2 linked regions of the Homo sapiens genome follow. The protein of the gene in region 1 purifies or fractionates together with the protein of each later gene. This does not show direct contact. Each region holds a gene or a part of one and is shown in the gene's direction. Other genes may lie near its edges. The genes, in order: SDHC and DHODH.

Region 1 (3,815 bases):
TGAGGCAGCCAGCCAAAATGATCTCTCTCCTGATTATATCTGGCTTGGAATCTGGTAATGATCCCAGATCTCCTTGACCTCCCAGAGATTTGTATAAAAAAAAATTTTTCCTGATTACAAGAACATATTACCAAGAATGAAAATATTATACAAATGTATACTTAGAAAAGTTGCCCATAATCCCGCCAGTCAGAAATAACCAGTATTCTATGTATATCCAGAGACTGTATCATTTTATGTTTTTTGTTTAAGGACTCAACCCATCAGAAAAATACCTAATTCAAATACAACTATTGCTATAGCCATTATTTACTAAACATTTACATAATTATTTAACCCTCATAATAATCTGAGAAACAGGAGTATCTTCATTTAAGAGCTTAAGAAACTGAAGTGGCCGAGGTGGGTGGGAGGCCAAGGCGAGTGGATCACCTGAGGTCAGGAGTTTGAGACCAGCCTGGCTAATGTAGTGAAACCTCGTCTCTACTAAAAATACAAAAAAATTAGCCGGGCGTGGTGGCACACACCCGTAGTCCCAGCTACTCGGGAGGCTGAGGCAGGAGAATTGCTTGAACCTGGGAGGCGGAGGTTGCAGTCAGCTGAGATCGTGCCACCGCACTCCAGTCTGGGCGACAGAGCGAGACTCCGTCTCAAAGAAAAAAAAAGAAAAAAGAAAAAATTGGTGTGGGGGTATGTAGTAGTAGAATGATTTTGAGAACATTTGACTTATTTAGAGGCAGTCTTCTCTTTTTGAATTGATTAAACTAATTGACATAATTCTGTATTATTCATAGGAAAACAAAAGCTGAAGACACTGTTATTCACATCCTAGTATTTCCAAGAGTTTTGACTCTCGTAGGTCATTTGAGAGTAGGTGGTGTTATCCTAGGATAACACCATATCAGGGTCTGGTTTTCTGTTGGTTAATATTGGTGTGGGTGGCCATCCCTGGGACTCAGCTGTGAGCCTGTTGTCCTATTTGATGCATAGATCAGGGATGAGTTTGCCCAGATATCTAAGGCATATATTTGGCTATTGAAGTTTCAGAGCTTTGTGCTGGCACTGAAATTCAAAAGATAGTTTTGAATTTCCTATCAAAACTACCAAAAGAGGGGTTCCTGCAGTCTTCTATAATAGCTTATCATCTATCCAGAGTGTCAAAGACTCTGAACCCTCTTGAGTCATATCTTCCTCCCAAATGTTCATCAAACTGTTTGAGTTCAGGTTTACCTCAGTGTCTTCAGTAATTATTTTCATGGTGCTCCTAAGTCAAGGTAAATACCTAACACTTTTGTTTTATTAGTTTGTTAGATCCAAACAGCTTATTTATTTCTTAGCCATTGAGTAGACATTTTTTAAAAAAAATCATCCACATAGGCTGGGCACAGTGGCTGACAACTATAATCCCAGTGCTTTGGGAGGCCAAGGCAGAAGGATCGCTTGAGCCCAGGAGTTAGAGACCAGCCTGAGCAACATAGCAAGACCCCGTCTCTATGAAAAACAAAAGCAAAAACAAAATCATCCACATAAATGGAAAGAAAAAAATATTTTTATTTCATTCTTAAATAATCATACTTTTTTGTTTGTTTGTTTTTGAAACAAGATCTCACTCTGTTACCTGGGCTGGAGTGCAGTAGCACAATCACAGCTCACTTTGTGCCTGGCTAATATTTTTTATTTTTGTTTTTATTTTTTGTCTTATTTTTAGTAGAGACAGGGTCTCATTATGTTGCCCAGGCTGGTCTTGAATTCCTGGGCCCGAGTAATCCTCCCACCTCAGCCTCCTAAATTGCTAGGATTACAGGCATGAGCCACCATACCCAGCCAATCATAATTACTTACTAATAGGATGTATATGCTGTTGGATATTATACAACTCCTCCAACCTTAGAAATCAGATTGGATACTGCCACCCTCATTTCTTGTTCCACAGTGATTTTCACACAGTACTTCATTTTTGCTGAAAACCCAGCTTTGCAAAGATGTGATCATTGAAAGAAATCTAACATCTAATGTTGAAACTGAACTACCTTGAGCTAGTAGTGGTTCACATGATGACCAACAGATGTTAAGTATCACTGTGTTTCATTTGAATATGTAAAATATCCTGTAGGACCTGTGAGTTTGCTTTGGTACCCCAGGGCAGCTTGGTGTAGTTTGGAAACCACAGTTCTAGCAATGATCCCAAACTATCAAATCAGGGTCTCTGGGAGTTGTGATGTGGGTACTCTTTTTTGCTTCCCCAAAATATTTTTTGGTGATTATGGGAAACAACTGGCCTCTTCTTTTTTTCTTTTTTTTTTTTTAATTCCCATTTTACAGATGATGTCTTATTTCTTTGTGTGTGTGTGTGTGTGTGTGTGTGTGTGTGTGTGTGTGTGTGTGTTTTGTCATTTGAGATGGAGCCTCACGCCTCACTCTGTTGCCCAGGCTGGAGTGCAGTGGTGCGATCTCAGCTTCCTGCAACCTCCACCTCCCAGGTTCAAGAGTTTCTCCTGCCTCAGCCTCCTGAGTAGCTGGGACTACAGGTGTGCGCCACCACAACTGGCTCATTTTTGTATTTTTAGTAGAGATGGGGTTTCACCATGTTGCCCAGGCTGGTCTTGAACTCCTCACCACAAATAATCTGCCCACCTTGGCCTCCCAAAGTGTTGGGATTACAGGCATGAGCCACCGTGCCAGCCAAGATAACATCTTATTTCTAATTTGAGTTTCATATTTGTTATACTTGATTTCTCAGTCATTGGTGGTCGATAGCCACTGAGCTCCAACAGATAATGCAGCCCTGTCAGACATTAAAATATTCATACTTTTTCTTTCACATAGGGAAATAATCTTCCAAGTATATACACATAGCAGTTACATTATATCATTATGGTTTTGATTTGCATTTGTCTAATGGCTAATGATGTTAAGCACCTGTTCATGCACTGATTGGCCATTTATTTATCGTCCTTGGAAAGATGTCTATTCAGATCCATTTGTCATTTTATTGATTGAGTTGTAAGAGTTTTTTATGTATTCTGGATAAAAGTCCTCCATGATTTGCAAATATTTTCTCCCATTCCTTTGAGTTGTCTTTTCACTTTCTTGATGGTATTATTTGCAGCACAAAAGTTAGTAATTTTGATGAAATCCAATTCATCTGTTTTTTCTTTTGTCATTTATGATTTTGGTGTCATCTGTGAAACCACTGCCTAATCCAAGATCATGAAGATTTATTTCTATGCTTTCTACTAAGAGTTTTATAGTTTTAGTTCTAGCATTTAGGTCTCTAATTCATTTTAATTTAAATTTTTGTGTAATAGAGATTTGAATGATTTAAAATTTTTCCTCTCTTCAGAGGTAGCAACACTAGAAGATAAAGATAAAAAAAGGGCCAGGCGCAGTGGCTCATGCTGGTAATCCCAGCGCTTTGGGAGGCTGAGGTGGGCGAATCACTTGAGGCCAGGAGTTTGAGACCAGCCTGGCCAACATGGCAAAACCCTGTCTCTACTAAAAATGCAAAAATTAGCGAGGCATGGTGGCATGCATCTATAAGGCCAGCTACCTGGGAGGCTGAGGCACAAGAATGGCTTGAACCCAGGAGGCGGAGGTTGCAGTGAGCTGAGATCACGCTTACTGCACTCTAGCCTGGGCAACAGAGCGAGACTCTGTCTCAAAAAAAAAAAAAAAAAAAAGAGAACCTAATTTTTTTTCTGACTCTTCTCTGGACTGAGTACACTGTTTTTACCTTTTCTTAGTTAGATGATGAACTAGATGATATAGCAAGGCTTGATGTCTAAACTGGCAAGTGAAGTTTTTATAGAGACGGA
Region 2 (4,419 bases), on another chromosome or scaffold:
TGGCTTGACTCAAGATATTTCATACACCTTTCTTTTGCTCTAATTTCTGCTACGACAATAACCCAGCTATTTCAGCTGATGGCGGGAACACTGCAACTGGACAAAAATGACACGGATGGGTGTAGAGCCTCCAAACAATAAGTATCTGATTAATGCTGTTGACACCTAAGTCTACAGAGGCTATTCTCCAACGGCCAGGACATCATTAGGTAAGACATTTCAAAATTCTTCGTGAGGGCACGATTGCTTCAGAGGACTACAAAGTGACACATTAGGTCGTCATAAATCACCGCAGTACCATCCTGGCTAACACGGTGAAACCCCGTCTCTAAAATACAAAACAATGAGCCGGGCATGGTTGCGGGCGCCTGTAGTCCCAGCTACTCGGGAGGCTGACGCAGGAGAATGGCGTGAACCCGGGAGGCGGAGCTTGTAGTGAGCCGAGATCGCGCCACTGCACTGCAGCCTGGGCAACAGAGCAAGACTCTGTCAAAAAAAAAAAAAAAAAAAAAAAAAAATCACCGCAGTAAACCACACTCCAACGGGCCTGCACACTCAGGGTCTTGATTAGAAACAGTATTTAAAAAAATACCTCCACATCTGTTGCACCACAATGCCAAGGTATAACCAGGGCCACTTTCTCCAGGAGGCACAACAGGCGCAGGGCCAGGGAAGGGCCTCTGACACTTTTAGGATCTCAAGAAATTTTTTTTTTTTGGTTATTTTTCTTTGTTTGTTTTTGAGACAGAGTCTTGCTTTGTCGCCCAGGCTGGAGTGCAGTGGTGCTATCTCGGCTCACTGCAACCTCCACCTTCTGGGTTCAAGCGATTCTCCTGCCTCAGCCTCCCGAGTACCTGGGATTACAGGCGCCTGCCACTACGCCCGGCTAATTTTTGTATTTTATTTTATTTTTTAGTAGACACGGGGTTTTGGGTGTTGACCAGGTCTCGAACTCCTGACCTCAAGTGATCTGCCTGCCTCAGCCTCCCAAAGTGCTGGGACTACAGGCGTGAGCCACCATGCCCGGCCTCAAGAAAATGTTTTAATTTCCTTAAAAAACCTTAAGAAAAATCAACTTTTAAGTTGAAAAAGTTTATATATTAACATATTCATCTTTATATCAACACAGCAGTAAAATTTATTTTTTAAAGTGATAAAAACTGTACAAATATTTCTGGTGTGAAACACAGTGTTTTGATGCTCGCGGACTCTTGGATTCGAGGCTGCGGTAGTACGGACAAACACCGTGCAGCGGCATCTCATCTCCGCCAACAGCCGGCGATCAAGCGGGCAGGCTGGGAGAGGGCGGGCGGAAGAGGCGTGGCCGCCGCTACTGCGCACGTGCACCCAACCAGAACCTGGGGGTGGTGCCGGGCCTTCCCCGCTGCGCGGAGGCGTCCTCTCAACCCTTCTGCCCGGCGACTGGTGGGTTGGCGGCTAAGGGGCGGAGACAAGAGGGGCCGCCACCATCTCCTCCAATGGAAGGGAGACAGGGGCGGGCTTAATGACGGAAGGAGCATGGCGTGGAGACACCTGAAAGTGAGTCCCGCGAGTGAGCAGTGTGGATGGGGGACCAGGGACCGGGGAGGGCGAGAACGGAGAGTCAGGCCGGGCGAGGCATGGACCGAAGGCGGCTCCGGGAGTGTGGGCCCCCCTGGGACGTGTGCGTGTTTCCGGGGTCTCCTGCAAATGCTCGTGCGTGTGCATTTGCACGTGGACTCGGTCAGGCGTGTGCAGACAGCGCCTGCAGGTCTGGGTGGGTGCTGATCTGAGTGTCTGCGCCTGGGCCATGTTTTTGAGCCTGGCACAGGGGTGCTTAGTGAACACATGACCGCCTAGCGTTGTGTGCCGGATCCAACGGGGAATGAAACTAGAGTAGGACATGCTCCCAACCCTTTTAGGTAAAGTTTTGTTAGGGGCGGGGGTCTCTGTGAAAAGTTCTTAGCTGTATCCCCGTATGTAATAGGTGTTCAGAGGCCGGGCGCGGTGGCTCACGCCTGTAATCCCAGCACTTTGGGAGGCCGAGGCGGGTGGATCATGAGGTCAGGAGATCGAGACCATCCTGGCTAACAAGGTGAAACCCCGTCTCTACTAAAAATACAAAAAATTAGCCGGGCGCGGTGGCGGGCGCCTGTAGTCCCAGCTACTCGGGAGGCTGAGGCAGGAGAATGGCGTGAACCCGGGAAGCGGAGCTTGCAGTGAGCCGAGATTGCGCCACTGCAGTCCGCAGTCCGGCCTGGGCGACAGAGCGAGACTCCGTCTCAAAAAAAAAAAAAAAAAAAAAAAAAATAGGTGTTCAGATATTTGTTGATTGACATGGTGGGGGGGAGTACAGTCTCCAAGGGAGGCAATGAATAACCTTGACTTTCTTTTTATATGTTTATTTGAGACGGAGTCTTGGGCTGTCGCCCAGGCTGGAGTGCAGTGGCGCGATCTTGGCTCACTGCAACCTCCGCCTCCCGGGTTCAACCGATTTTCCTGCCTCGGCCTCCTGCGTAGCTGAGATTACAGGCGCGCGCCACCACGACTGGCTAATTTTGGTATTTTTAGTAGAGACTGCAGTTTCACCATGTTGGTCAGGCTGGTCTCGAACTCCTCACCTCGTGAGCCTCCCAAAGTGCTGGGATTACTGGCGTGAGCCACCGCGCTCGGCCTGAGTCTCTTTTTAAAATAAATAAATGGAGAGAGATGGGATCTCACTGTGTTGCCCAGGCTGGTCTAGAACTATTGGCCTCAAGGGATCTTCCCGCCTCAGCCTCCCAAAGTGGTGGGATTACAGGCGTGGGCTACCGCGCCCAGCCAATGAATACTTGATCTACATGTCTTTAGCAGTTTGGAAGGATCCTTAAAAGCAAATCTAATCATGTCATTTCCTGGCTTAGGGAACAAAACCCAAATCTTTATTTTGGCCAAGACTCCTGCTCCTTTCTCCTGCCTCGTCTTAAGCCTTACTTTCCCTCACTCCTCTGTTCCAAACTTTCTCCCTTTTTCATTCTCTTCTGCTACTGAGAGAGCCTTTACACTTTTTCCTCTCCGTACTGCCTTCTGGTTAACTATTTTTTTAAATAATTGAACCAGAATAGGTTCAGAGAGACCCCCATCAACTCGTTTATCCCTTGAGTATCAGCTTTAAGTCATTTCCTTAAGGAAGCCTTTCCTTACCTCTAAGATTAGGTTGAATACTTCCATTACCTTATACTTTTTATCCTTCATCACAGTTGCTATGACTACATATTTGCATGATCATTAATTTCTGTCTGTCGCTTCATAAGATCACACTCTCCATGAGGGTAGGGGCAAGATCTGTTTTGTCATCTTTGCTCAATCAGTATTTGATGAATGACTGAACTAATGAATGAATAACTCAGCATGTGGCAGTGATAGAGAAAAGCATTGTGAACCACTTTTGATCCAATAAGATCTGAAGCTTCTGTTTTATATTTTACACCCCCGTTACCTTGAAATGGAATATATGTATAATGTCTTTGTATGTATACATTTTTGAGAGAGTCTGACTCTGTCGCCCAGGTGGAGTGCAGTGGTGTCATCCCGGCTCACTGCAGCCTGGACCTCCTGGGCTCAAGGGATCCACCCACTTCTGCCTCCCAAGTAGCTGAGACCGCAGGCGCACCACCATGCCTGGCTAATTTTTTATATTTTGTAGAGACGGGGTCTCACTATGTTCCCCAGGCTGGTCTCAAGCGCCTGAGCTCAAGCAGTCCTCCCACTTCAGCCTCCCAAAGTGCCGGGATTACAAGCATGAGCCACCAAGTCCAGCTATGTGCAATTTTTAAAAGCCAGCATAATTAATACCCTAACTGGAATATAAAGGAGAAAATGTAAAAGTAGTTTATATTAATAATAAAATTACATGTATTTCAGTATGTAAATATTGCTATGACTCCCCTAGTGAGATAGTTGTGTTTAAGTCTCTACTTAGAAATGCAGGTACACAGGTGTGTTACATATCAGGCACCCCAGGAAAGCACTGTACCATTCCCGATGAGATTTTCTGAAATGGTGAACAATTCTTGGGAATGTTCTATGTGAAACTGTACAGTTGTCCCTCAATTTACAAGATATTTGTACTGTATGTGAAAACCATGTAGAGGCTGGGCACGGTGGCTCATGCCTGTAATCCCAGCACTTTGGGAGGCCAAAGCAGGAGTACTGCTTGAGCCTAAGGGTTCAAGACCAGCCTGGGCAACATAAAGAGGCTCTATCTCTTCAAAAAATTGGCTGGGCTTGGTGGCATGTGCCTGTGGTCCCAGTTACTTGGGGAGGCTGAGGAGGGGAGGATTGCTTGAGACCAGGAGGTCAGGAAAGACAGTTTGTGTTTATGTGGTAAAATATAGTTTGGCTTAGATAATATGAACGGATAATTTTTACCCACACAAATGTCAGAATGTTCAAAAGTCA

What was found.
Region 2: the proteins of SDHC (region 1) and DHODH purify together in Homo sapiens (affinity purification with mass spectrometry; one large-scale study listed by BioGRID and IntAct). This does not show direct contact.

Annotation. Positions count from the first base shown.
Region 1 is NC_000001.11:161,352,325-161,356,139, forward strand, and holds part of SDHC (succinate dehydrogenase cytochrome b560 subunit, mitochondrial isoform 1 precursor), read left to right. Parts: intron 1-3,815. UniProt on the Homo sapiens protein: Membrane-anchoring subunit of succinate dehydrogenase (SDH) that is involved in complex II of the mitochondrial electron transport chain and is responsible for transferring electrons from succinate to ubiquinone (coenzyme Q).
Region 2 is NC_000016.10:72,007,247-72,011,665, forward strand, and holds the start of DHODH (dihydroorotate dehydrogenase (quinone), mitochondrial), read left to right. Parts: upstream 1-1,497; 5' UTR 1,498-1,518; coding exon 1,519-1,539; exon of another isoform or gene 1,540-1,663; intron 1,664-4,419. UniProt on the Homo sapiens protein: Catalyzes the conversion of dihydroorotate to orotate with quinone as electron acceptor. Required for UMP biosynthesis via de novo pathway.